Linked DNA regions of Homo sapiens: regions 2 and 3 are each linked to region 1. The links come from fine-mapping of genetic effects on gene expression. A gene starts in region 1. Each other region holds a variant in brackets. All regions are shown on one strand. Distances are between the middles of the regions. Region 1 holds the start of ZNF8-DT (ZNF8 divergent transcript). Region 2 holds the start of MIR6806 (microRNA 6806). Region 3 holds the start of ZNF274 (zinc finger protein 274).

Region 1 (8,178 bases):
TCAGGGAAATGAAAAATCAAAACTATACACCACCAGTGTTGCTGCTAGGTTAAAAAACAAAACAAAACCACATATACTAAATACTTCAATTTTTTTATTTTTTATTTTGAGACAGGGCCTCACTCTGTTGACCAGGCTGCAGTGCAGTGGTGCAATCTCGGTTCACTGCGACCTCCATCTCCCTGGTTCATGTGATTCTCCCACCTCAGCTTCCCAAATAACTGGGATTACAGGCATGTGCCACCAAACCCAGCTAATTTTTGTACTTTTAGTAGAGATGGGGTTGCACCACGTTGGCCAGGCTGGTCTTGAACTCCTAACCTGAAGTGATCCATCTGCTGTGGCCTCTCAAAGTGCTGGGATTACAGGCATGAGCCACTGCACCAGGCCCCAAATACTTCAATTTTAAAAGGACATTTCCTTTTAAGAAAAACATGAGTAGATTAAAAAATAAGAAAGAAATTTTAGTACAGGTAGCAGGTGGCTCTAATAGGAAACATACAGAAAGATGCCTTTGGTTGGGAACTGAGGTCTCTGCTCCTGTCTCTGTGTCTTCGCTTTCCTCCACTCAGAATGCCCACCAATTTTGATTTGTGCTTCCCGTGCCTCCTGCCCCCACCTCCCATCATCACCCATTCTGCAAGAGTCACTGGTGACAGCCTAGACACCACGTCCACTGAGTACTGGTCTGTCCAAGCCATGAGAATTCTCAGTGGCATCATACAAGTCCTTCATGCCTCCTCTTGGCTTCCTTCTTGGAATTCTAGCAGAAGCCCACTCCTTGTTGTCTCATGATGTTCTTTCTGCCCTACATCAGATCCCTGCAGCCTTCCCTCTTGTCTTGCACTTCTGGAGCCTGAAGGGGTGGGGCTGTGCTCTGATGTTTCTCCTTTACATATTCTTTTCACCCCAGCATCAGCCAACACCTGGTCACTGGGCCTAACCACTCCTCTCTTTTTCCCACTGCCTTAGTTGAGCTGCCAGTATCTCCCTTCCCACCAGCCCCTAATGCATAAGTGGATTTTTTCAACCCTATGCCAGTCCTGCTTAAAACACGTGAATGGCTCCTTCTCATCACTGAATACTGGATGGCTCCTCTCAGCCTGGCTATGGTAGACTGAGATATATAATGGCCTCCAAGGATATCCAGGTCCTAGTTCCTAGAACCTGTGAATATTACTATATATGGTAAAAGGAACTGTGCAGATGTGATTAGGATTTTCAAACAGAAAAATTATCCTGGATTATCCAGGTGGGCCCTAAATGCAATCACAAGTGTCTTTATAAGAGGTAGACAAAGGGAGCTATGACTATAGAAGACATAAGGCAATATGATCACTGAAGCAACATGCTACAATGCAGGCTTTGAAGACAGGCAAAGGGCCATGAGGCAAGGAATAGAAGGTCTGTACCTCTCACAGCTGGAAAAGACGAGGAAACATTCTACCCTAGAACCTTGGTAGGGAGGGTAGCTCTGCTCATACCTTGATTCCAGACCAGAAAACCGATTTCAGACTTCTGACCTCCAGAACCTAAGAACAAATGTTTTAAGCCACAAAATTTGTAGTGAATTGTTACAGCAGACACAGATAACCAGATAAAACACTGGACCTTGAAGCTCTCCATTCTGGTCCTTGTCTCCTGTGATGGACAGTCTCCAAGATGCTCCCCCACCACCTCTGCCAATGACCTCCAGCCCTGGTGTGGTCCCCTCCAACACTCAACAAGGTTGACTTTGTAACCAGTAAGACACCGTGGAAGTGACAAGAGTGTGAATTCTGAATCCAGGTCATGGAAGGTGTTACAGTTTCTACCTTGCCCTCTCCTGGATCACTTGTTCTGTGGGAAGCCAGATGCCATGTTGCAAGGATCCCTAGCAGTTCCAAAGAGAGGCCTACATGGAGAACAACTGAGGTCTCCTATCAACAGACATGTGAGTGAGCCATCCTGGAGGTGGATCCTCCAGACTCAGGTCTCAGGTGACAACAGCTATGCTGACATCTTCACTGTAACTTCATGGGCCTGAACCAGAACCACCAGCTAGGACATTCCATTACTCCTGTCAGAACTCGTGAGATATTTATTGTTGTTCCAGGTCACGAAGTTTTGAGTTACACAGCAACAGGTAACTAATACACTTTCTCTCAAGCCTTTCTTACGACTCATTCCTTGTCCCCCATCCACAGCAAGAACAAAATAAAACGTGGTAGCATTTCATGCAAATTTGGAGCAACACACATCTGAAAACCTGCAACCTAAGATTATCAAGTCTCACTTTGTGTACCAAATCTGAAATAATGCAAATCCCCATGAACAAACCAACGACAAAAAATAAAAAAAAGTATAATTTCAAAGTTGCAGAGCTTGAGGAAGGATAATTATTGTTGTTTCCTGCCACGCGAGGCAGCTTTATGGAGAACACAGGCCGCAACCACTTTGTCTAGAAAGTGGAGCTCTGATGGCCAGATGGCCCTGCAAACACTGACCGCCCTGCACTGCAGTTCTCCCACAGTCTCGCAGGGGACGACCCTGGTGGTCACTCTCATCACACTCAGTGCGTGGTGACCCATCATTGCCCCCAAGAGGTTGTGCCCAAGCCCCAGGGCAGGGGCTCCGCGGTGCTGGGGTCCCGGTGGGTGTCCGCTGACTCCACGCGTTAAAGCATCTCTATTCGATGATTCTTGCCATCTGGGCACCCGGCCAACGCTACAATTACTGTTATCAGTCAACACGAGGACAGACCTTCCTGGAATGGGCAAGGGTGTCGGCGGGGCGGAGCAGAACGCAGGAGATGGGCCTGCTCGATTCTCTCGGGAATGACCGACCCCAGCCCTGGGGAGGACAGAGCCGCGTGGAGCATGCGCATTCGGGGGCCAGGCGCCTGGTTGGAATCCCGGCCCCCTCTCTGACCAGCCAGGACGGTCACCACGCCCCGACCCGCGTCTGAGTTTCCCCACGTGTCAAGGGCATTAACAGCGGTGCCGCTCTCATCGCGCCGCGAGGTGAAAGGGTCAGTCTGCGCGGGAGACGCTTGCCCGGAGCCCGCCGCCGTCGTTATTGTTGTTATTGTTACCTGAAGCCGGGCCGCCGGCGGCCCCACAGACATCACTCCCGCTACCCCTTCGTCCTCGGGGTCCATGCTGGATCGCCCAGTGAAGGACAGCGCCTGAGGTGATCCCCAGACCAGAGAGGCACTCCAGCCAAAGGGACCACCCGACTCGCCGAACGCCGGACAATGGCGGCCGCACCGGCGACGCGGCGACTACAACTCCCAGTAGGCCGTGCGGCGAACCACAGCCCTCGGCCAATGGGAGTCTCCGCTGGTCTGGCCTTCGACCAATGGAAGCATTATGGCCGATGGCCAATGGGAGCCCCCACCCGCTGGCCTCTGGCCAATGGGAGCACTCAGCTAAGGCTGGTGGGGGCGGTGTTGCTCGGGGCTGCGATGCCCCTTAGGTTGCGGGCAACCAGAGGCCTCACTCGTGGGCAGGAAGCAAGGGCGGACCCCGAGAGATGACTGATTGTGGGGGTGGGGACCGTCTGCTCCTCCTAATGGCTGGGGACCGTGCACGTCTGCGCGGGCCGGACCTGCTCTTCTCGGGAACTTGCGCGGGAGGAGGCCCGGAGCTGCGCCGCTTTACCCTCTGCTCCCCGGTGCCTAAAACGCACACGCATCAAAGTCACAGGACGAGTTAGAGGTTTGTTCATATAAAAGACTTTGGGCTTAGCGGCTGGAAGCGGGGAGGCTGGGAGCGGTGGTTGTGTTACAGGAAAGGGGTCCGATTCAGACCCCAAGGGAGGGTTCTTGGATCTCGCGCAAGAAAAAATTCAGGGCGAGTCCGCAGTGCAAAGTAAAAGCAAGTTTGTTGAGAAAGTAAAGTTGTGAAACAGCTACCCCATAGACAGTAGGACGTTCCTGAAAGTAAGAGGAACGTATGCACCCTAGGTACAATGCTTGTGTATATTTGGGCTAAAAATAGATTTTGGGGAGATGTGCTCTGCTACAAGGGTTTGTGAAAAAGGATTAATTTTCTTACTGTATTTTTCAAGAATCGATATTATTTTTAAAGCAAAATTAGGAATGCCTTTGTTCTCTAGATACCGGGATATCTGGACACTCCCAAGTCTGGGTCTGTTTTAGTACCCATTATTAATTTGTTCCCTTAACCGTAAACATCTAGAGGTTAGGAATACCTACTTTTCTGGGAATGCAGCCCAGCCTCATTTTCCTAGCCCTCACTCAAAATGGAGTCGCTCTGGGTCGAATGCCTCTGACAGCCCTATTGCTTCTCCCTGTGGGTGTTCACTTTGTGATGTGTCTTTTTCTGTGGGTCTGTTGTAGTCCATTAAAATGTTTATTAAAGGTCGGGCGCGGTGGCTAACGCCTATAATCCCAGCACTTTGGGAAGTCGAGGCGGGTGGATCACGATGTCAGGAGCTCGAGACCAACCTGGCCAATATGGTGAAACCCCGTCTCTACTAAAAATACAAAAATTAGCCCGGCGTGGTGGCGGGCACCTGTAGTCCCAGCTTCTCGGGAGGCTGAGGCAGGAGAATCGCTTGAACCTGGGAGGCGGAGGTTGCCGTGAGCCGAGGTCAGGCCACTGCACTCCAGCCTGGGTGACAGAGCAAGACTCCGTCTCAAAAAAAAAATAAAAAGTTATTAAAAAAGAAAAATGGGGAAGCAGATTTCCATTCAAAAATGTTGCATTCAAACCACAACAATTTTTAACTTTTTTAAATTTTACCAAGAGCCAGACACATAGCAGGGAACAGTATAGTTACTTGTTATTTGCTCACCCCCATGGGGCTGATGGTGTAGTCTGAGGGACTGAAGATCAACCATGACATGGCCCTTCACACCGTGTTGAAGGGGTGAAGACGTTACCAGTGGGGACGGAGGAGCTGACTCCCGAGGGGCTCAAGCTGGCCACACTCTCTCAGATCCTTCTGGCCGACTCCTGAGGGCTCAAGCTGGCCACACTCTCTCAGATCCTTCTGGCCCTGTACCGTCTCTGCTTTTTGCTGGGCCTCGTTCCTGAGAAGGAGCAGGTGTTAGGCAAGTTACACAAAATTATGAGAGGACATGGTTTTGGACTGAGCTCCTGCTCTAGGCCTCATGAGACCAGACCAAACCAAGACAGAGTCACTTAGGCTAAATGCCACATAATCAGACTGATACTTTAAGCAGGTAGATCCCTAAACAAACCAGATTTCCAGTCTACCTGAGCAGCATAATAAGGAAGTCCCCTCTGCTTTAATCCTTACAAGAAAAGTAACCTAGTGTTAACTAATTAGCCTTTTCTCTATCTTACAAAAACCACTATTCTACCATTTGCCCCGTGGGAGCTCTCATTCCGTTTTGCAGAGTGGAGGCTGCCCAGATTCATGAATCACAAATAAAAGCCAATTCGATCTTTAACCAAATTTGTTAAAATTCTGTCTTTTGGCTGGGTGTGGTGGCTCACGCCTGTGAGTGAATCCCAGCACTTTGGGAGGCTGAGGTGGGTGGATCACCTGAGGTCAGGAGTTTGAGACCACCCTGGCCAACATGGTGAAACCTTGTCTCTAATACAAATACAAAAATTAGCCAGGTGTGGTGGCGGGCACCTGTAATCCCAGATACTCAGGAGGCTGAGGCAGGAGAATCGCTTGAAACTGGGAGGCGGAGGTTGCGATTAGCTGAGATTGCGCCACTGCACTCCAGCCTGGGCGACAGAGTGAGACTCCATCTCAAAAATAAAATAAAATAAAAATAAAATTCTGACTTTTGACAGATGTCTTCACTCACCTGAGCAAGTGGCAGCTGCTGTGGGAACTGGATCAGGCAGCCTTCCAGGAGACTAAATCTGTCTTCTATTGGGAGTCCCAAAAAGCTCCCAGGCAGCATCCCCTTCTCTGTAGGCAGAGAAGGTACTAGGAGGATCTATTGCCTTCCCCTGCACAGTGGCCACCAGTGTTGGAGAGGTAGGGGCAGGTGTGCAAAGATCTATTCTCTTTAGGGGAAACCTGTGTGTTCTTTTTTTGTTGTTTATTTGTTTTTTGAGACAGGGTCTCACTCTGTTGTCCAAGCTGGAATGCAGTGCTGCAATCTTGGCTCATTGTAACCTCCACTTCCCAGGCTCAAGTGATCCTGCATCCTTAGCCTCCTGAGTAGCTGGGAGCACAGGTGAGAGCCACCACACTGGGCCAATTTTTGTAGAGACTGGATTTTGCCATGTTGCCCAGGCTGGTCTTGAACTCCAGAGCTCAAAGCAATCTTATCTGCCTCAGCCTCTGAAAGTGCTGGGATTACAGGAATGCGCCACTGCACCCGGCCCTGTGTATTCATTTTGGAGCCAGTCACTGGGCTCAGCTTTCCTCCTAGTTCTAATGGTGTGGAATCTGTGATTTTGATGTCCTATTATTTCCTCTTTCCTTTTTTTTTTTTTTTTTTTGAGACAGGGTCTCACCTGTTGCCCACTCTGGAGAGCAGTGGTGTGATCACAGCTCACTGCAGCTTCAACCTCTTGGGCTCAAGGGATTCTCCCACCTCAGCCTCATGCTACCATGCCTGGCTAATTTTTGTATTTTTTGTAGAGACAGGGTTTTGTGATGTTGCCTAGGATGGTCTTGAGCTCCTGATTTCAAGCAGTCCATCCGCCTTGGCCTCCCAAAGTGCTGGAATTACAAAAACGGTGCCCAGCCTATTTTTTTTTTCTTTTCTAGTTCTTGTTTATCTCCTTGATTATAAGGTAGGAGTTTGTCTATTGCAGTAGTTCTTAAAGTGTGGGTCAGGGAGCCCTGGGCGTTCCTGAGATCCTTTCAAGGGATCGGTGGGTTCAAAACTAAATTCATAATAATAATGAGATGTTGGCTTTTTCTTTTGTTGCCAGAGGGCTCAGGAAGGTCACCGGATGCCAGTGCCAGTTGGTGTCCAGGTTCTTGAAGCCATCACAGGAAAGAATTCAGGGATAAGTCAGAGTAAGCAGAAAGGCAAGAAGCTTTCATTGCAAAGTGAAAGGAAACACGGGAGACAAGTGTGGGGGGGCTCCTGGCTCCTGAGTCACACCCAACATTGTTTGCATTTCTCATTTTATGGGTGTTTAATTATGGGTGGAATAGTCATTCGGTATCTGGAAAAGGAGGGGATTTCAGGCACCACCCTCCCCCTGCCCCACCCCAGTTACCACCCCCTTTCTCCCTTATTTGGGTTTGCCTGGAAGAGTCATGGACCTGTCACCCTGACCAGGGTTTTGGCTGTCTTCTCTCCCTTATTTTGGGTTTTGTTATTCTGTGGTTTCTTTGCCTACTGCTTGTTTTAGTTGTCGTTTGGGTTTTTCCATTCTCCTGGACTACCCAGTGCTATTCCTCTCTCATTTTCATAGGAATATACAATAGAGTTTTCCAGAGGCTGCTGGATGAGTCATATTGTAACAGATGCAATGGGAACATGGAGCTATGGGAACTCAACTGCCTTAAGTGAAGCCAGACATTAAGGAGATTTGAAAAAATATAATACAATGCCACTCTTCTCCCTATTTCTGTTTTGGAAAATGCTGTTTTTCGTAAAGTAGGTGCTTTTTAAAAAATATGTTGTATTAGTCATGAGGGCTCTGGTAACAACATACCACAAATGGGGTGGCTTAAACGACATAAATTTATTGTTACAGTTGTGGAAGCCAGAAGTCTGAGATCAAAGTGTTGGCATAGTTGGTTCCTTCTGAGGGCTACAAGAAAGTATATGTTCCATCCCTTTCCTTAGTTTTTGGTGGTTTGCTGGCAATCTCTGGCATTCCTTGGCTTGTAGATGTCTGACTTTGTCTTCAAATGTCATTTTCCCTGTATGCGTGACAAGTTGTCTGTCTCCAAATTTCTGTTTTTATAAGGACAACAGTCATAATGGACCAGGGCTCACTCTAATGACCTCATTTCAGCTCTTTAAAGACACTGTCTCCAAATAAGGTCTGAGGTACTATGGGTTAGAACTTCAACATATCAATTTTGGGAAGAGACACAGCTCAACCTATATATTAACATAGAATAGATTTTGAAAAATTATATTAATAAAATATATTAATTTTTTTCCGTTTTAATTCCTAATACACCAAATATTGATAGGACCTACATAAACAAAAACTGTTTAGGAGCCGGGCACGGTGGCTCACACTTGTAATCCCAGCACTTTGGGAGGCGGAG
Region 2 (8,149 bases), 58 kb before region 1:
TCAGCCTTGCAGTTAGGCACAAAATAGTCTGGAGTGGAAATAGTAGGTGCCAAGGCACAGAGGTGGGCATGGCAGGTGTCCGTTCTGGGCTAAGCAGCAGAAAAGCAGGCAAGAAGAACCACATGAGAACAAGCTACAGTTGGCCCGCCCAGAGCGTCTTGGGACGCTGAGTTCTGAGAGACATGCGCCTTCATTTGCCCTGGCCCTCAGAACCAGTCTAAATCCTCAGTTCGGCTGCCTTCTCTCTGGGACAGCCCTGAGTGGGAAATAGAGGGTAGCAGTGCAGGGCCCTTCTGGAAGCTTCTCCAGCTGGCCTGAATCACCTTGTGCTCATCAGGGTTCCTCAAATGCAGAGTGGTTCCTAGACAGCCCGAGTCTGCCCTCAGGCACCTATCATTTTGACAACTCATCAATCACCCACCCTGTCTGTGGCTCTTCAGGAACTCAGCGTTTCTCTTAGACCTCGAGCCTCCGAGAAGACGCTGTGCTACGCCCCCAGGGGCGACTTCCGGTCATTGCAGCACCGTGATGTGGATCCGCAAGTGAACCATCAGGGCTGAGCTACGACTGAAGGCCTTCCCACAGTCGCTGCACTTATAAGGCTTCTCTCCCGTGTGGATCCTCTGGTGCTCAATGAGGGAGGAGCTCTGTGCAAAGGCCTTCGGACAAACCTTACACTGATATGGCTTCTCTCCAGAGTGGATTCTCAGATGTCGGATCAGGGCTGAGCAGTCGCTGAAGGCTCGGCCACACGCGTCACACTTGTAGGGCTTCTCCCCGGTGTGGATGCGCTGGTGTTGAGTCAGGTGCGTGCTCTGGCTGAAGGCTTTCCCACACGCGTCACACTCGTAGGGCCGCTCCCCCGTGTGCACCCGCTGGTGCTGGGTGAGGTGAGTGCTGCGGCTGAAGGTTTTACCACATTCCCCACATTTGTAGGGTTTCTCTCCAGTATGAATCCTTTGGTGCTGAGTCAGGTGGGTGACTCGGCTGAAGGCCTTCCCACATTCCTTACACTCATGGGGCTTCGCCCCTGTGTGGACAACCTGGTGCTGGGCGAGGTGAGTGCTCCGGCTGAAGGCTTTCCCACACTCGCTGCAGGCATATGGGGTCTTCCGAGAATGGGTCTTCTGGTGTGCCTCGAGCGCCGAAGCACTCTGGAACATCTTCCTACACTCGCGACACTTGGAGGACCTCTTCCCTGAGTAGGTGTATGGAGGCTCTGTCCCATAAGCATCCACCAGATCAAATTTGTCTTCTGAAGGAGGCTTCTCTTGGGAGGTGAGGTTTGGCCACGCACTAGAACTGTTCCTCGAGGCACCAGATTCACGGCCACGCTGGTCTGTGGGGACATCCTTGTAAGGCCCTGAAGTTTTCTTGAAGTGGATCTGTTGGGTGACAGACTTTGTCCAGATCTCCCCTGATAGTCCAGACCTCTCTGAGCTGCCCTCAGGTTCACATGCCTTGACAAAGGCGGGTCCAAGGGAAACACCTCCCATGAGGGTCTCAGTGACATTTGATGGCTCTGACTCTCCCAGGTCACTCTGCTTGCAGCTTGCCTCTGTGGGCTCGGCTCCTGGATCCCATCCTGAAACAGTCCGAACCACACTGTCACTCCTCCTACCACACCAAGCCTCCCCTACTCTGCCGAGGGCCCCGGTCACACTTTGTAAGGGGAGATGTGGCCCGTTCCTAACATCTGGCCCCAGTTCCAAGGGGAAGTTTCTCATTTGGTGTCTTGGATGACAAAGGGTGCAGGGCTGTCCTCCCACACCATCCAAAACTACACCATGGGTTCTGATTTCTCCTCCTCCCACCAAACTCGCCATCTTTCAAGGCTCCCAATTTTGGCTCAAGAGTCAAGAGGAGAAACCCTGATGTGGAACTGATCTGGAGACAGAGAGAGAGGGAGGGTCTGTCCTTGTCAGGACCCTGAGCACATGCACCCCTGCAGGCTCTGATCTCTGTGGGGTTGCAGTTCTGTCCCTCACACTCAACACCTTGCGTCTAGGCCTGGATGTGTCCCCTGCAGGCTCTGATCTCTGTGGGGTTGGAGTTCTGTCCCTCACACTCGACACCTTGCGTCTAGGCCTGGATGTGTCCCCTGCAGGCTCTGATCTCTGTGGGGTTGGAGTTCTGTCCCTCACACTCGACACCTTGCGTCTAGGCCTGGATGTGTCCCCTGCAGGCTCTGATCTCTGTGGGGTTGGAGTTCTGTCCCTCACACTCGACACCTTGCGTCTAGGCCTGGATGTGTCCCCTGCAGGCTCTGATCTCTGTGGGGTTGGAGTTCTGTCCCTCACACTCGACACCTTGCGTCTAGGCCTGGATGTGTCCCCTGCAGGCTCTGATCTCTGTGGGGTTGGAGTTCTGTCCCTCACACTCGACACCTTGCGTCTAGGCCTGGATGTGTCCCCTGCAGGCTCTGATCTCTGTGGGGTTGGAGTTCTGTCCCTCACACTCAACGCCTTGCGTCTAGGCCTGGATGTGTCCCCTGCAGGCTCTGATCTCTGTGAGGTTGCGGTTCTGTCCCTCACACTCAACACCTTGCCTCTAGGCCTGGATGTGTCCACAGGTGCTCAGTGAATTCTGGCTGAATGAGGGAATCCATCCAGAAGCCCACGATGGTGAAAATTTCTGCAAGTAGAACCCCAGGTAGAATATGGCTGCTGGGGGTGAGTACATGAGGTACCCATCTGGCCTCTCAAGCCCCTACATTGTAAAGTACTATGAAGGCAGAGTGTGGCGGAGGTGCTCTTGGAGATCAGAGTGTGCATGAGGTAGAGGAATGCTCGCACTGACCTGCCCTGCATGGGTGCAAAGGACACATAATCTGGCACATCTACTGGATGGATTCCAGGGAGGAGGCAGAGACAGGTGGAATACCCACTGCTCAAGTCCACAGTGGGGCTCAGCAGTGCAGAAACTGGACTCAAACCCCAGGTCTACCACCTTAATCAGTCCTGCCCTCATCTGGGACTCAGTCTCCCCATCTGTAAGCCATGGATGCTGTGCCGCTGGCCTTCCAGGGCCACTAACCACTATCAGGCTCTTGTCGTGCTGGGCCCCAAGCACAGTGGGTGACTTCCATCGCCTCATTTCAGCTTCGACCTGCTCTCAGAAGGAGGTACTGCTGTGATTCTGTTGCAGATGGGGAAACTGAAATCCAGCTGAGGGAAGGTGTTGAGTAACTGGTACAGGATCACAGTTAGCTAGTGGCCCAGTTGGGATTTCAGCTCCAGAATGTTCTCCTCCAGGTCCACAGGCAGTCTCCCCTGCTCCCCCAGCCATCTGCTTGGCCCTGTCTCCCCCTTCCTTCCTCTATCCAGAAACATCACACCACCTGCTTTTACCAGAATACACCAGTGCAAATCACACTGCCAGGCCTTTGACCCCACCATTCCCTCTGCATTTTACCCTTTCTCTGAGCTTTGGCCAACCCTGTGGGAGGATGGGGCCACTCCCTCCTTCCTCTCCCTGTCTCTGTGACATCTGCTTGGGCATAGACCAACCTCTGTTCCAGAGAGGCCTGTTTCTCCCAGAGCTGAACAAATTATCCTAACAGTTGCAGTTACCATTTATTTAATCTGTGCCAGGCACCATTTCAGGTGCTGCACGGGTATTGCCTTGTATCTCGCAACACCACTAAGGTGGGCGTTTTTATTACAATCCCCATTTTACCCATGAGTAAACTGAGGCACAAGGGAGTCACATGGCCAGGAAGAGCAGCAGCGGTTGGATCTACTGAGCCTTGATGATGCAGCTGTATCCAGACTCCACATTCCTCCTGCACACTGCACGTTTCCTCCCAGTGTGTGGTATGCCCACCTCCTATCTGTTGCCAATAGGCCAGGCCAAGCCCATCTGAGACGAGCCACCACTCCCTGCTCTGGATTGTCCCAAGGCTGGGTCTTCCCTGCATCCCACTGGACCTCCCTGGGTTGGGATGTTTGTGTGGGTCTCTGTGAGTA[A/G]CAGTGCCCAGCTGAGCCTGGGGCAGGTCTGACCCACCCAAATCCTGGAGGCCAGCCCAGGGTGGGCATAGAGAAGGTACACAGGGACATCTGGTATTTCCGTCACCCCCAACAGCCACCCCAGGCACCCAGGCCCTCGTCTGGTTTCCTCTGAGAAACAGCCAGTTGCTCACTGTTAGTCCCTGGGATTTGGTTGGCCAAACACAAACATAAGATCCCAACCAGGCCAGTGGGGGCTCAGACCAGGGACCTCTTATTGTTATTACCCCGGGGTTTCTACATTGGTAAGACATAAGCCTGGGGTTCCTGGCTATCTTTAACCCCTTTGGAAAGAGAACCTAAAATAAGAATGAAGCTAACACAGAAAAAACCAACTGAGAAACAGAACAAGAGAGGAAGAAGAGAGTTCTGATGCTGTCAACAGATCTTCTGGATATAGCCGTATCTGCTGCCTCCTTACCCTTCTTTGCTTCAGCCCATTTCAGCTCGCTTTTGGTCACCTGCAACCAAAACACACCTGTCTACAACAGTGTGTGAGAGTTACGGTAAAGTACAAATGTGAGAATGGGTGCATGAGCAACCCCAAACCAGAGCCCTGTGCTCCCATGTTCCTGTCCAGGGTGTATCTCTGGTGTGCCGTGAAGCTGCCCACGGCGCCCCTTTACCTCTCTTGTCCAGCACCTGAGTCAGATCCTCCACCAGCACAGCGGCTTCCTCTCCGCTCTTGGGACTCTGGGCTCCCACCCAGGCTTGGATCTCTGGGGGCAGCGCACCCAGGAACTGCTCCAGCACCAGCAGCTCCAGTATCTGCTCCTTGGAGTGCGCCTCGGGCTGCAGCCACTGACAGCACAGCGCTCGGAGGTGGGCCAGGGCCTCGTGTGGACCAGATGCCTCCTCATAGCGGAAGTGCCGGAAGCGCAGGCGTGCAGCCTCAGAGTGAGCAATGTGGTCATGGCTGGATTCTCCGCCCTGGGAGAGGCTGGCTTCCTCTTCCTCCTCCACCTTCACTTGAAGGAAGCTGTCCTCTTCCCACGGCACTGGGCTCAGGGAGTGCTTGGGGATGGCCATCGGGCAGCAGTGCTCAGTGAGACACAGGATGCCGGAGCCTTGGAACTGGGCCTGCAGGAATGTCAGAGCTTCAGCATCACATGGAACCTGGGCCCTGCCTCATGCCTACAGAGCAGGGAAAACACAGGCTTGTGGCCCGTGAGATGTGAAAGACTCTCACAAAGACATAGACAATCCTCATAATTAGGACAGCACCCACTTGGTGCTGAGCACTGTTCTAAGCTACTACTGCTTGCATGTAGACTCATTTAAAACTTACAACAAACACCATCCTGGCTAACATGGTGAAACCCCGTCTCTACTAAAAATACAAAACAAATTAGCCAGACGTGGTGGCGGGCACCTGTGGTCCCAGCTACTCAGGAGGCTGAGGCAGGAGAATGGCGTGAACCCGGGAGGCGGAGCTTGCAGTGAGCCGAGACTACGCCACTGCACTCCAGCCTGCGCAACAGAACAAGACTCTGTCTCAAAACAAAAACAAACAAACAAAAAACTTACAACAAACTCAGGAGGTGGGACTTTCTACCTATTTTATGGATGGAAAAACAGACACTCAGGAGGAAAATATTTGCCCAAAGTCCCTCAGCTAGTGAAGGGTTAACAGAGAGCTAAGCTACAAACCCACGCAAACCTACAGCCAGCCTGTTTAAGGCGTGCTCCTCCCCAACAGAGCCAAGTCTTTCTCCCTCTGTTCCCCAGGTAGCCACATGGTCATTCTCTCACTTTACTTGCTAATTATTTTGTAGTGTTTGAGATTGATACATAATTGACTTTCGCCTTTCCTCTTTTCTAATGCACATATTTAAGGCTATAAATTTCTCTCTAAACACAGCTTTAGCTATACATCACAAGTTTGATATGTTGTATCTTCATTATCATTTAGTTAAAAATATTTTCTAATTTCTGTTACAATTTCTACCTTACTCATTAATTATTTTTTAAAATTTATTTTATTTTTTTGAGACGGAGTCTCCCTCTGTCGCCCAGGCTGGAGGGCAGTGACGCTATCTCGGCTCACTGCAACTCCGCCTCCCGGGTTCAAGCAATCCTCCTGCCTCAGCCTCCCAAGTAGCTGGAACTACAGGTGTGCACCACCATGTGAGGCTAATTTTTGTATTTTTAGTGGAGACGGGGTTTTGCCATGTTGGCGGGGCTGGTCTCGAACTCCTGACCTCAAGCGATCTGCCTGCCTCGGCCCCACAGAGTGCTGGGATTACAAGCATGAGTCACCATGCCCAGTCCCATTGGTTATTTATTTAAAACTCTCCTGCTTCATTGCCAAACAACTGGGGGTTTTCTAGTTGTCTTTTTATTACTGATGTCTAGATTAAGTCTGTTGTGGTCAGAAAACATGCTACAATGGATTTCGATCATTTAAAATTTGCTGAAACTTGGTTTGTGACCCAGTGTATGGTTAATTTTGGTTAATGTTCCATGAATACTTGAAAATAATGCAAAGCTGTCTTAGCTATGACACCAAAAGCATAAGTAACAAAAGAAAAAATAAATAAACTGGACTTTATCAAAATTAAAAGCTTTTGTGATTTGAAGGACCACATCAAGAAAGTAAAAAAGCAGCCCACAGAGTGGGAGAAAATATTTGCAAATCATATATTTGATAAGGGACCTGTATCTAGAACAACTCCATAGTAAAAAGATGAATAATACAATTTTAAAATGAGCAAAGAATGTGACTAGACATTTCTCCAAGGAAGATACACAAATGGGCAATAAATACATGAAAAGATGCTTAACATCACTAGCTACCAGGGAACTGCAAATGAAAACCACAATGAGATAGCACTTCACACCTGCTGGGATGCCTATAATCAGATAACATGTGTAGGCAAGGATATGGAGAAACTGTAATCCTCATATGCTGCTGCTGGGAATGTAAGATGGGATAGCCACTGTGGGAAGTACAGTCTGGGAGTTCCTCAAAAGCTTAAACAGAGTTACCCCATGACCTAGCAATTCTACTCCTACGTATAGACCCAAGAGAAATGAGTATATGTCCTCACAAAACTTTATACATAAATGTGCATAACAGCATTACTCATAACAGCAAAAAAGGAGAAACAATCCAAATGTCCACCTGATGAATGGATAAAATGCTGTATATACCTATAATGGAACACTATTCACCATAAACAGAAATGAAGTACTGATTAATGCTACAACATGGATGAACCTTGAAAACATGATGCTAAGTAAAAGAAGAAAGACACGGCAGGGCACGGTGGCTCACACCTGTGATCCCAGCACTTTGGGAGGCCGAGGTGGGTAGATCACCTGAGGTCAGGAGTTCAAGACCAGCCTGGCCAACACAGTGAAACCCCGTCTCTACTAAAAAATACAAAAATTAGCTGGGTGTGGTGGCAGGCACCTGTAATCCCAACTACTCAGGAGGCTGAGGCAGGAGAATCTCTTGAACTTGGGAGGCAGAGGTTGCAGTGAGCCGAGAGTACACCACTGCACTACAGCCTTGGCGACAGAGGTAGACTCCATCTCAAAAAAAAAAAAAAAAAAAAAAAGCATATTAGTGTTTGTCAGAGGCTGAAGAGAGACAAAAATGAGAGTGGTTGCTAATAGGTTTGGGAATTTCTTTTGGGGATGATAAAAATGTTCTGGAGGCCAGGCGCGGTGGCTCACGCCTGTAATCCCAGCACTCTGGGAGACCGAGGCGAGTAGATCACGAGGTCAGGAGTTCAAGACCAGCCTGACCAATATGGAGAAACCCCATCTATACTAAAAATACAAAATCAGCCGGGCGTGGTGGTGCATGCCTGTAATCCCAGCTACTTGGGAGGCTGAGGCAGAAGAAACCCTTTAACCTGGAAGGTGGAGGCTGCAGTAAGCCGAGATTCTGCCATTGCACTCCAGCCTGGGCAACAAGAGTGAAACTCCATCTCAAAAAATAAAATAAAATAAAAATACAGCTTTTAAAAAAATAATGTTGGCCAGGCACGGTGGCTCATGCCTGTAATCCCAACACTTTGGGAGGCCAAGCTGGGCCGATCACAAGGTCAAGAGATCGAGACCATCCTGGCCAACATGATTAAACCCCGTCTCTATTAAAAATACAAAAAAATTAGCTGGGCGTGGTGGCGTGT
Region 3 (8,178 bases), 95 kb after region 1:
TGCCTATAGATCCAGCTACCTGGAAGGCTGAGGTCGGAGGACAGCTTGAGTCCAGGACGCGGAGGGTGCAGTGAGCTGAGATCATGCCACTGCACTCCAGCCTCGGTGACAGAGACCCTGTCTCCAAAACAAAAAGAAGCTGACTTGTCTGTATTATAACACCCCCAAAATGTGTATATATATTCACATACATTCACGTAAGCCTATATAAGAAAGTCTGGCTGGAAATACACACCAGGGTTACCAGTGATTATGAGGGGAGGGCAGTAGACAATGCGTGTAACAGACTAAGGGAGCCCCTACTGTCAACACAAGTATCACCTGCCACCAGCAACAGGTTCACTTTCAACCAAGTAGGACACTGCTGACTGTGGAGCCAGAGAAAAACTTCGAGTTTGGTTCTGCAACTGCTCATCACAGCATCCCACCTGGGGTATCCCAATGTCTACTGCTTTTCCAAGATACTGGTCCCTGACTCATCAGTTGGCCCCTTCCCTGTGGGGGCTTCCCATGTCTGGTTCTCACCTGGAATGGTGTCTTGAGGAATTCCTCTCTCCACTGGCCAGAAATCTTCTGCCTCCTCTAACTGAGATACCACATCTGGTTTGGAAAGCTGATGTTCTGCTCAAAGGAAAAGAGACAGGGCTTGTGGGGGTCTGTGTTCAGGAGAAAATGCTATCCTACTGCAGCACAAGCCGTCTCCAGCTTCTCCCCTGCTAAGGCACATGACTTCTGGCCTAGAGCAGTGAACACAACTCCATCCATCCCTGTTGTTGGCTTTCCTAGACTCCTTTGCCAAGCAGCTAAGGGGTCCAGTTCTGGTCAGCCAGACACAAAGGGAGATCGGTCAGCTGGGAAAGCTTTTGCTTTCTGGTTAAACATGACAGCTGTGAAAGGGCTACCCCTTCTCCTTGTTTCTGCCTTGAACACAGATGCAATGCTTGGAGCCACAGCTGTGCAATGACTAGGGGGAACATGGAAAGGTTCACAATAACCAGAGTTTGAAGGGACAGGCTTTTTTTTTTTTTTTTTGAGACGGAGTCTTGCTCAGTTGCCCAAGCTGGAGTGCTGTGATCTGATCTCAGCTCACTGCAATCTCCTCCACCTCCCATGTTCAAGCAGTTCTCCTGGCTCAGCCTCCTGAGTAGCTGGGGTGCTCGGCTAATTTTTGTATTTTTAGTAAAGACAGGGTTTCATCATGTTGGTCAGGTTGGTCTAGAACTCCTGACCTCAACTGATCTGCCTGCCTCAGCCTCCCAAAGTGCCAGGATTACAGGCGTAAGCTACCGTGCCTGGCAGGGACAGGCTCTTTGATGCTACTCCTAAGCTGTTGGGACACTGGCATCGCATTGTCTGGAATTTCTGTGGAGTTTCTTTTTTTTTTTTTTTTTAATAGAGACACGGTCTATGTTGCCCATGCTGGTCTCAAACTCCTGGGCTCAAGCAATCCTCCTGCTTCAGTCTCCTAAAGTGAGCCACCATGCCTGGCCGGAACTCTTGTTGCAAGAACAATAAGCATCCACTACTGCAGCTGAAAACATCCCTGACAGACCCATCTCCCTGGTATTCAGGGAGGGATGGACTAGGCAATGATTCAGAAGTCATACTGAAAAGCTGCCCTTTTCCTACTGGTGCCCCTGCAGTGTGAGCCCAAGCAGACACATACTTCAGAGGTGCTACATTTGTGCTACAAAGCACAGATCCTTCTTGACCTGGAGGCCAGCCTTACCCACTGAGACCAGGTTCCTGTAGTTCTCCAGCATCACTTCCCTGTACAGGGACTTCTGTTTGAGGTCCAGCAGTCCCCACTCTTCCGGGGTAAAACCCAGTGTTACATCTTCAAAGGTCACTGGTTCCTAAAAATCCAGATTCTTGTTCAGCCACAGGCCATCCGCATCCACGACAAAAGAAAGACAGGGGAGGCTGACCAGGCCAGTGAAAGCACAGAATGGTCTACAAGATGACCCAAGGGCATTTTGGGAGTCTCATCCTGAGTTCCTGTCTTTGTCTGAAACCCCAAGCAAACCCAAGCTTGACTCTATTCAGGTTACAATAAGGAGAGCAACACATGAGATCTCTGTAGCATATGAAAATCTGTCCATTTTATTTATTTATTTATTTATTTAATTTATTTATTTATTGTTTTGAGACAGAGTCTCACTCTGTCTCCTAGTGGAGTGCAGTGGCGCAATCTTGGCTCACTGCAGCCTCCACCTCCCAGGTTCAAGCGATTCTCCTGCCTCAGCCTCCTGAGTAGCTGGGATTACAGGCGCATACCACCATGCCCGGCTAATTTTTGTATTTTTAGTAGAGATGGGGTTTCACCATGTTGGTCAAGCTGGTCTCGAACTCCTGACCTTGTGATCTGCCTGCCTCGGCCTCCCAAAGTGCTGGGATTACACATGTGAGCCACCGCACCCGGCCCTATTTTTCTTTTCTTTTTTTTTTGAGACGGAGTCTCTCTCTGTCGCCCAGGCTGGAGTGCAGTGGCGCCATCTCGGCTCACTGCAAGCTCCGCCTCCCCGGTTCACGCCATTCTCCTGCCTCAGCCTCCCGAGTAGCTGGGACTACAGGCGCCCGCCACCACGCCCGGCTAATTTTTTGTATTTTTTTAAGTAGAGACGGGGTTTCACTATGTTAGCCAGGATGGTCTCAATCTCCTGACCTCGTGATCCACCTGCCTCGGCCTCCCAAAGTGCTGGGATTACAGACGTGAGCCACCGCGCCCGGCCCCCTATTTCTTATTCATTTGAAAATTCTGACTTTGGGAGTGGTGCGTATGCCTCCTAGGGAATTCTCTGAGCTGCACCATCACACCCAAGCCGTCAGCCCCTACCCAGGGCCCTGATGCTTCTTTCTATCTCCTTCACCTGTCAGGGATCCATCCTCACCTGTCTTTTCTACTTGTTATTGAACTCTGCTGCTGTCACCTCTTGCTTGATGCCAATTTATCTGCTGAAATCTAAACATAAGCCTGATCCCTGCATAGACCTTTGGGAGGCCGAGATGGTCGGATCACCTTAGGTCAAGAGTTCCAGACCAGCCTGGCCAACATGGTGAAACCCCGTCTCCACAAAAAACACACACAAAAAATAAAAATAAAAAAAAAATTAGCTGGGTATGGTGGCACACGCCTGTAGTCCCAGCTACTCGGGGAGGCTGAGGCAGGAGAATCACTTGAACCCAGGAGGCGGAGGTTGCAGTGAGCCAAGATCGCGCCACTGCACTCCAGCCTGGGCGACAGAGGGAGACTCCATCTCAAAAAACAAAAAACAAACAAACAAAAGACCTGTCAATTACTCTTCCCAATATAAAGGATACAAGCAAGAGCCTTAACCTGGCCTTCAGAAGCCCCTACAATCTGGTCTCTATTCTAACTACACCCTTGGAAAACCAAGCAACCTGCGGTTCCACCATCACGCAGGATCTCTCATGCCCAACCAATCTCTACCCCCTCCCCGAGGTGCTCTGGAGGATGGGGGTATCTCAGGGAAGGTGGTATCTCACCACCATCCGCATCCTCCCAGGTGCAGTAGCGGACTCAAAAGCTGAAGGAAGCCTCTACTCACACAGGACCAGGCCGTCGGAAGCCTGGAGGCCATAGTTTCCTCCTTCTCAATGTGTCTCTGGTGGAAGTGGGCAGAGTCCTGAGGAAACCGAAGTTGGGAGGGGAGGGAGAGGCTTAAGGTGTCCGCTGGGGAGCTACCGCAGCCTCCGCCCAGGAACGGCTCCCTCAGCGGGAAATGACAAGTCCACCCAAACTGGAAAACGCCCAGAGTGAGTCATAGGACTCCCACAGGACTGGATAGGACCAGTTTTCCCCTCCCCGAGAGGACACCGAGCCTCCTCTGTCCCGCGCATCGGAGGGGATCGCCTCCCTGGCCCAGACCCCACGCTTCCGGAGGCGATCTGTTCTCTCCACCGCGGCGCCCCGAAAGCACTGTCTCCCCTCGGGGTTCCGGGTCACCGACCCCATCCCACAGAGCGGCGGGAGGACTGCAGGCACGGCCGGCTCAGGGTACCCGAGCTCGGCGGAAAATGCAGAGGCCGCGCTCGCCCCCAACTAACGGTTCTGGACCCGCCCAGCGCAGCCCCCGACGGACGCAGGTTTCGCGCGGCACTCACCCGGCGCGCGCCGCACAATGGCGCCCGTCGGCCGGCGGCGAAGTGCGTCAGCCCGCCGTCCCGAACTACAACTCCCAGACGCCCCCGCGGCGCGCCAGCTTGCCTCACCCAGCGGCGGCCATCTTGACTGGCCGGTTAGGGGCGGCAGGCGAAGCCGGGGACAGCAGGAGGAGGATACTCGTCGATGTCCCTCGGCGGTCCAGCTAGGCAAGGGGAGGCCTCTGGTGAGGGACGCTAGGCCGCAGGGCCCCACACTAATGTGGGCGGCGACCCGAGCTGGGAGAGAGTCGTGCCCTGCCACGAAGGCGACCACTCTTGGGGCAGAGCAGAAGCTGGAGAAAGGAAAGGCGCTGGACAGGGGTCAGGCCGGAAGTGCTGGAATGGGTGATGCTTGGTTGGGTGGCGGTGGGGGCGGGATTAATTATGACGTCCCTTGGGAAGAGGAAGGGCGGGTAGGGCCGGAAGTGCAGGGGGCGGGCCTAACTGGCCGTCCATCTGGGTGGAGGGGCGGGGACAGGGAGGGCGGGGAGAATGTAGGAGGCGGGGCTAGAGTCCAC[G/A]CAACTTTTGGGGAAGGAGGGGGACTGGAAGACGGAAGTCGCGGGGGGAGTGGGGAGAGGTACTGAAGTTCCACCAGTTTCAAAGTCGAGAAAGAAGGGGAGGACTGGGAGAGCCGGAAGTGTGCAGGAGTTGGGACTGACGGCACTTATGTTTCTGGGAGATGGGTCCTGCCTGAAAGTGAGGGTGGACAGGGCCAAGTGTCCACTCAAGGTCAGGGAGGGGAGGGAAACTCGGAGGACCGGAAGTGTGATGGGAACGTGGCCAAACGTCCACCCTAGTTCTGGGGATTAGAGGAAGGGAGTAGGAAGGTCAGGGGTGTGCAAGGGGAAGGAGGGAAGACTAGGTGGACCACAAGTGTGATGGGAATGAGGCCAAACGTCTACCCTAGTTCTGGAGAGATGATCAGGGCTAACTGTACCCCAGGCATTGGGGAGGAGGAGCAGGATCCTCTGCCTAGTGTCCCCCTGTGGTCCAGTTTGCTCCTGGAAGCTGAGGTGCTCATGTCTAGGGAGAGGAAACCTAAGTCTGTAGCTGTCCAGGACCTGGTGTGTGCCACCCATCCTTGGGCCCAGGGTGCTCTCATCTTCCTTGGGAGCTCAGGACAAGGAGGTATTCTCTTGGCTTCCTCAAGGACCGACATCTGGTGTTTTCTTATCTTCCTTAGGTCCCAGGTCCCAGTATGGTCTTGTCTTCTTGGGACCTGAGGGCCCTAATGATCTCTCTCAGTGCTCAGGACCCTGTGTCCTCTTTCTTGATATTTCCTGGCAGGTCTCAGCAGCCCTCTGCCTCCCTCTGGTGGTCGTGTACACTGCCTGCTAAACTTGTTCCACGGGTTGTTGGTTTTTTTGGTCACTGTGGAGGATCCAACCTCAGGCTACACATTGTTTAATTGTTGCTGTTAGTGTGTTGATTTTGGCATAGGAGTATTTACTCAGAGACTGTGCAGATATCTTATAGTCTAATAATATTTCATTGGATTTTTCGTGTCTATTATAGATACAACACCATCCCCAATTAATAAGTAATTTGATATCTTCTTTTTCCATATTTCAACTTTAAAAAATTAACATTGTATAGTCCTAGCTAGTATGACAGAGCTATGTTAAGTAGTCATGTTTACTAATAGTCTTGTTTTGTTCTGGATTTGAATAGGATACGTCTAGCCCTTCATAATCACAAGGAAGCAAACCCCCTTGGAAATTCTTTTTTTTCTTTCTTTTTTTTTTTCTTGAGACAGGGTCTTGCTCTGTCACCCCGACTGGAATGCATTGGTGCGATCACAGCTTACTGCAGCCTCCACCTCCTGGGCCCAAGTGATCCGCCCACCTTAGCCTCTCAAATAGCTGGGACAGGTGCACACCACCACACCTGGCTTTTTTTTTTTTGGAGACAGAGTCTTGCTCTGTCGCCCAGGCTGGAGTGAGGTGGCACAATCTCGGCTCACTGCAACCTCTGCTTCCTGGGTTCAAGCGATTTTCCTGCCTCAGCTGCCCAAGTAGCTTGGACTACAGGTGTGTGCCACCATGCCTGGCTAATTTTTGTATTTGTAGTAGAGACGGGGTTTCTCCATGTTAGCCAGCCTGGTCTCGAACTCCTGACCTCAGGCAGTCTGCCCACCTCAGCCTCCCAAAGTGCTGAGATTATAGGCATGAGCCACCCCGCCTGGCCTCTTTTGTACTTTTTTGTAGAGACAGAAACCTCACTATGTTGCCCAGGCAGGTGGAAATTCTTCTAATGATTTCTTTCTATTTATGTGGTATAGGATAAAACCTGATTTTTGATTAAAAGAATTTGTTTTTGAGACAGGGTCTTGTTCTGTTGCCCAGGCTGGAGAGCAGTGCTGCAGTCATGGCTTACTGCTGGCCCAACCTCCTGGGCTCAAGTGTTCCTCCCATCTCAGCTTTCCAAGTAGCTAGGACTGACTACTGGTGTGCATCACCACACCTGGCTAATTTTTAATAAATATTTGTGTAGAGATGAGGTCTCAGTGTGTTGTCAGGGCTGGTCTTGAACTCCTGGACTCAAGCAATCCTCCCGCCTTGGCCTCCCAAAGTGCTGGGATTGCAGGCGTGAGCCACCATGCCTGACCAAAGATGTTTTGTTTTTTTTTTTTTGTTTTGAGACAGAGTCTCGCTCTTTCGCTCAGGCTGGAGTGCAATGGCGTGATTTCGGCTCAACTGCAACCTCTGCCTCCCGGGTTCAAGTGATTCTCCCTGCCTCAGCCTCCTGAGTAGCCGGGCGTGCCACCATGCCCGGCTAATTTTTGTATTTTTAGTAGAGATGGGGATTTGCCATGTTGGCCAGGCTGGTCTCGAACTCCTGACCTCAGAGGATCCGCCCACCTCGGCCCCGCAAAGTGCTGGGATTACAGGCTTGAGCCACTGTGCCCAACCTAAAGATGGTTTTATATAAGCATATTATTGAAGATTGATTTATGAGAGCCATTTTAATTCAACTTTTAATAACTGCATACTCTTTTCCTGTTTAGCAAATTAAATATGCTGTTTATTGTAATTTGTAAAATAAAAATGACTTCTGAAGAAATGTTAACTATTAAACATGTAAAATGTTGAAAAAATTTATTCATCGTTGTTGGATTTAGACAGTGCCTCGATTGCTTGTTCAAAACCTTCTGAGCCAGATGTATTTTGGAATTCATGATCATTTGGATTTTAGTAGGATGGTAATGTATTTACACCATACAGTGTGTAAATCCCTAAGAGGTGTGGGGTAGCACCTGCCATCAAACACATGAGTATATCTGTAGCAAAATACAAGAAGATTTACACTAGGTGGAAGAGAGACAAAATATAAATAGCCTTGTTCATATAAATTTTGCAGACTCATAACAGGGAGAAATTTTCTGTTAGAAAATATCTGGAATTTTGAATTACATAGAAGGCATTATGGATCATAAGTGAAAATGTGTGTTGTAGAAATAGTAGTTATTTCATTCAATTGCAAAGTTTAATTTTTACTTTTTCTCTCTTAATATAGTCTGCATAGGGCCAGGTGCGGTGGCTCACACCTGTAATCCCAGCACTTTGGGAGGCTGAGGTGGGTGGATCACCTGAGGTCAGGAGTTCGAGACCAACCTGGCCAACATGGTGAAACCCCGTCTCTACTAAAGGGGGCTCCATCTCAAATATATATATATTCCACATAGTCAGGCATAGGTTTATTGAGATACTGAGTTATTTAAATATATTAATATTTTTCCATGTGCTTTTTTTTTTTGAGATGGAGTTTTGCTCTTGTTGCCCAGGCTGGAGTGCAATGGCACTGCAACCTCCGCCTCTGCCTCCCGGGTTCTAGCGGTTCTCCTGCGTCATTCTCCCTAATAGCTGAGATTACAGGCAGATGCCACGACGCCCAGCTAATTTTTATATTTTTAGTAGAGACAGGGTTTCACCATGTTGGTCAGGCTAGTTTCGAACTTCTGACCTCAGGTGATCTGCCCATTTTGGCCTCCCAAAGTGCTGGGATTACAGGAGT

The links.
Region 2: its variant is fine-mapped to the expression of ZNF8-DT in minor salivary gland (GTEx, PIP 0.96).
Region 3: its variant is fine-mapped to the expression of ZNF8-DT in transverse colon (GTEx, PIP 0.97).

The regions. Positions count from the first base shown.
Region 1 is chr19:58,274,043-58,282,220 of GRCh38, reverse strand. ZNF8-DT (ZNF8 divergent transcript) reads left to right here and starts at 3,479. Exons shown (of 3, transcript NR_187495.1): 1 at 3,479-3,698. It overlaps ZNF8 (zinc finger protein 8), which reads right to left and starts at 3,266. Exons shown (of 4, transcript NM_021089.3): 1 at 3,074-3,266. The coding sequence starts at 3,139. ZNF8-ERVK3-1 (ZNF8-ERVK3-1 readthrough (NMD candidate)) reads right to left here and starts at 3,255. Exons shown (of 7, transcript NR_144447.1): 1 at 1,612-3,255. It also overlaps a transcript of ZNF544 not described here. RefSeq lists enhancers at 2,671-2,720, 3,141-3,190.
Region 2 is chr19:58,331,690-58,339,838 of GRCh38, reverse strand. ZSCAN22 (zinc finger and SCAN domain containing 22) reads right to left here. Exons shown (of 3, transcript NM_181846.3): 2 at 4,634-5,087; 3 at 1-1,585. The coding sequence starts at 5,036. The coding sequence ends at 513. MIR6806 (microRNA 6806) reads right to left here and starts at 5,151; the gene lies at 5,088-5,151. RefSeq lists an enhancer at 827-1,328. The variant A/G (reference allele first, on the strand shown) is at 3,969.
Region 3 is chr19:58,179,390-58,187,567 of GRCh38, reverse strand. It overlaps ZNF274 (zinc finger protein 274), which reads right to left and starts at 4,507. Exons shown (of 8, transcript NM_133502.3): 1 at 4,126-4,507; 2 at 3,570-3,647; 3 at 1,730-1,856; 4 at 526-621. The coding sequence starts at 3,602. RefSeq lists enhancers at 3,655-3,844, 3,471-4,182, 4,095-4,514, 4,183-4,896. The variant G/A (reference allele first, on the strand shown) is at 4,683.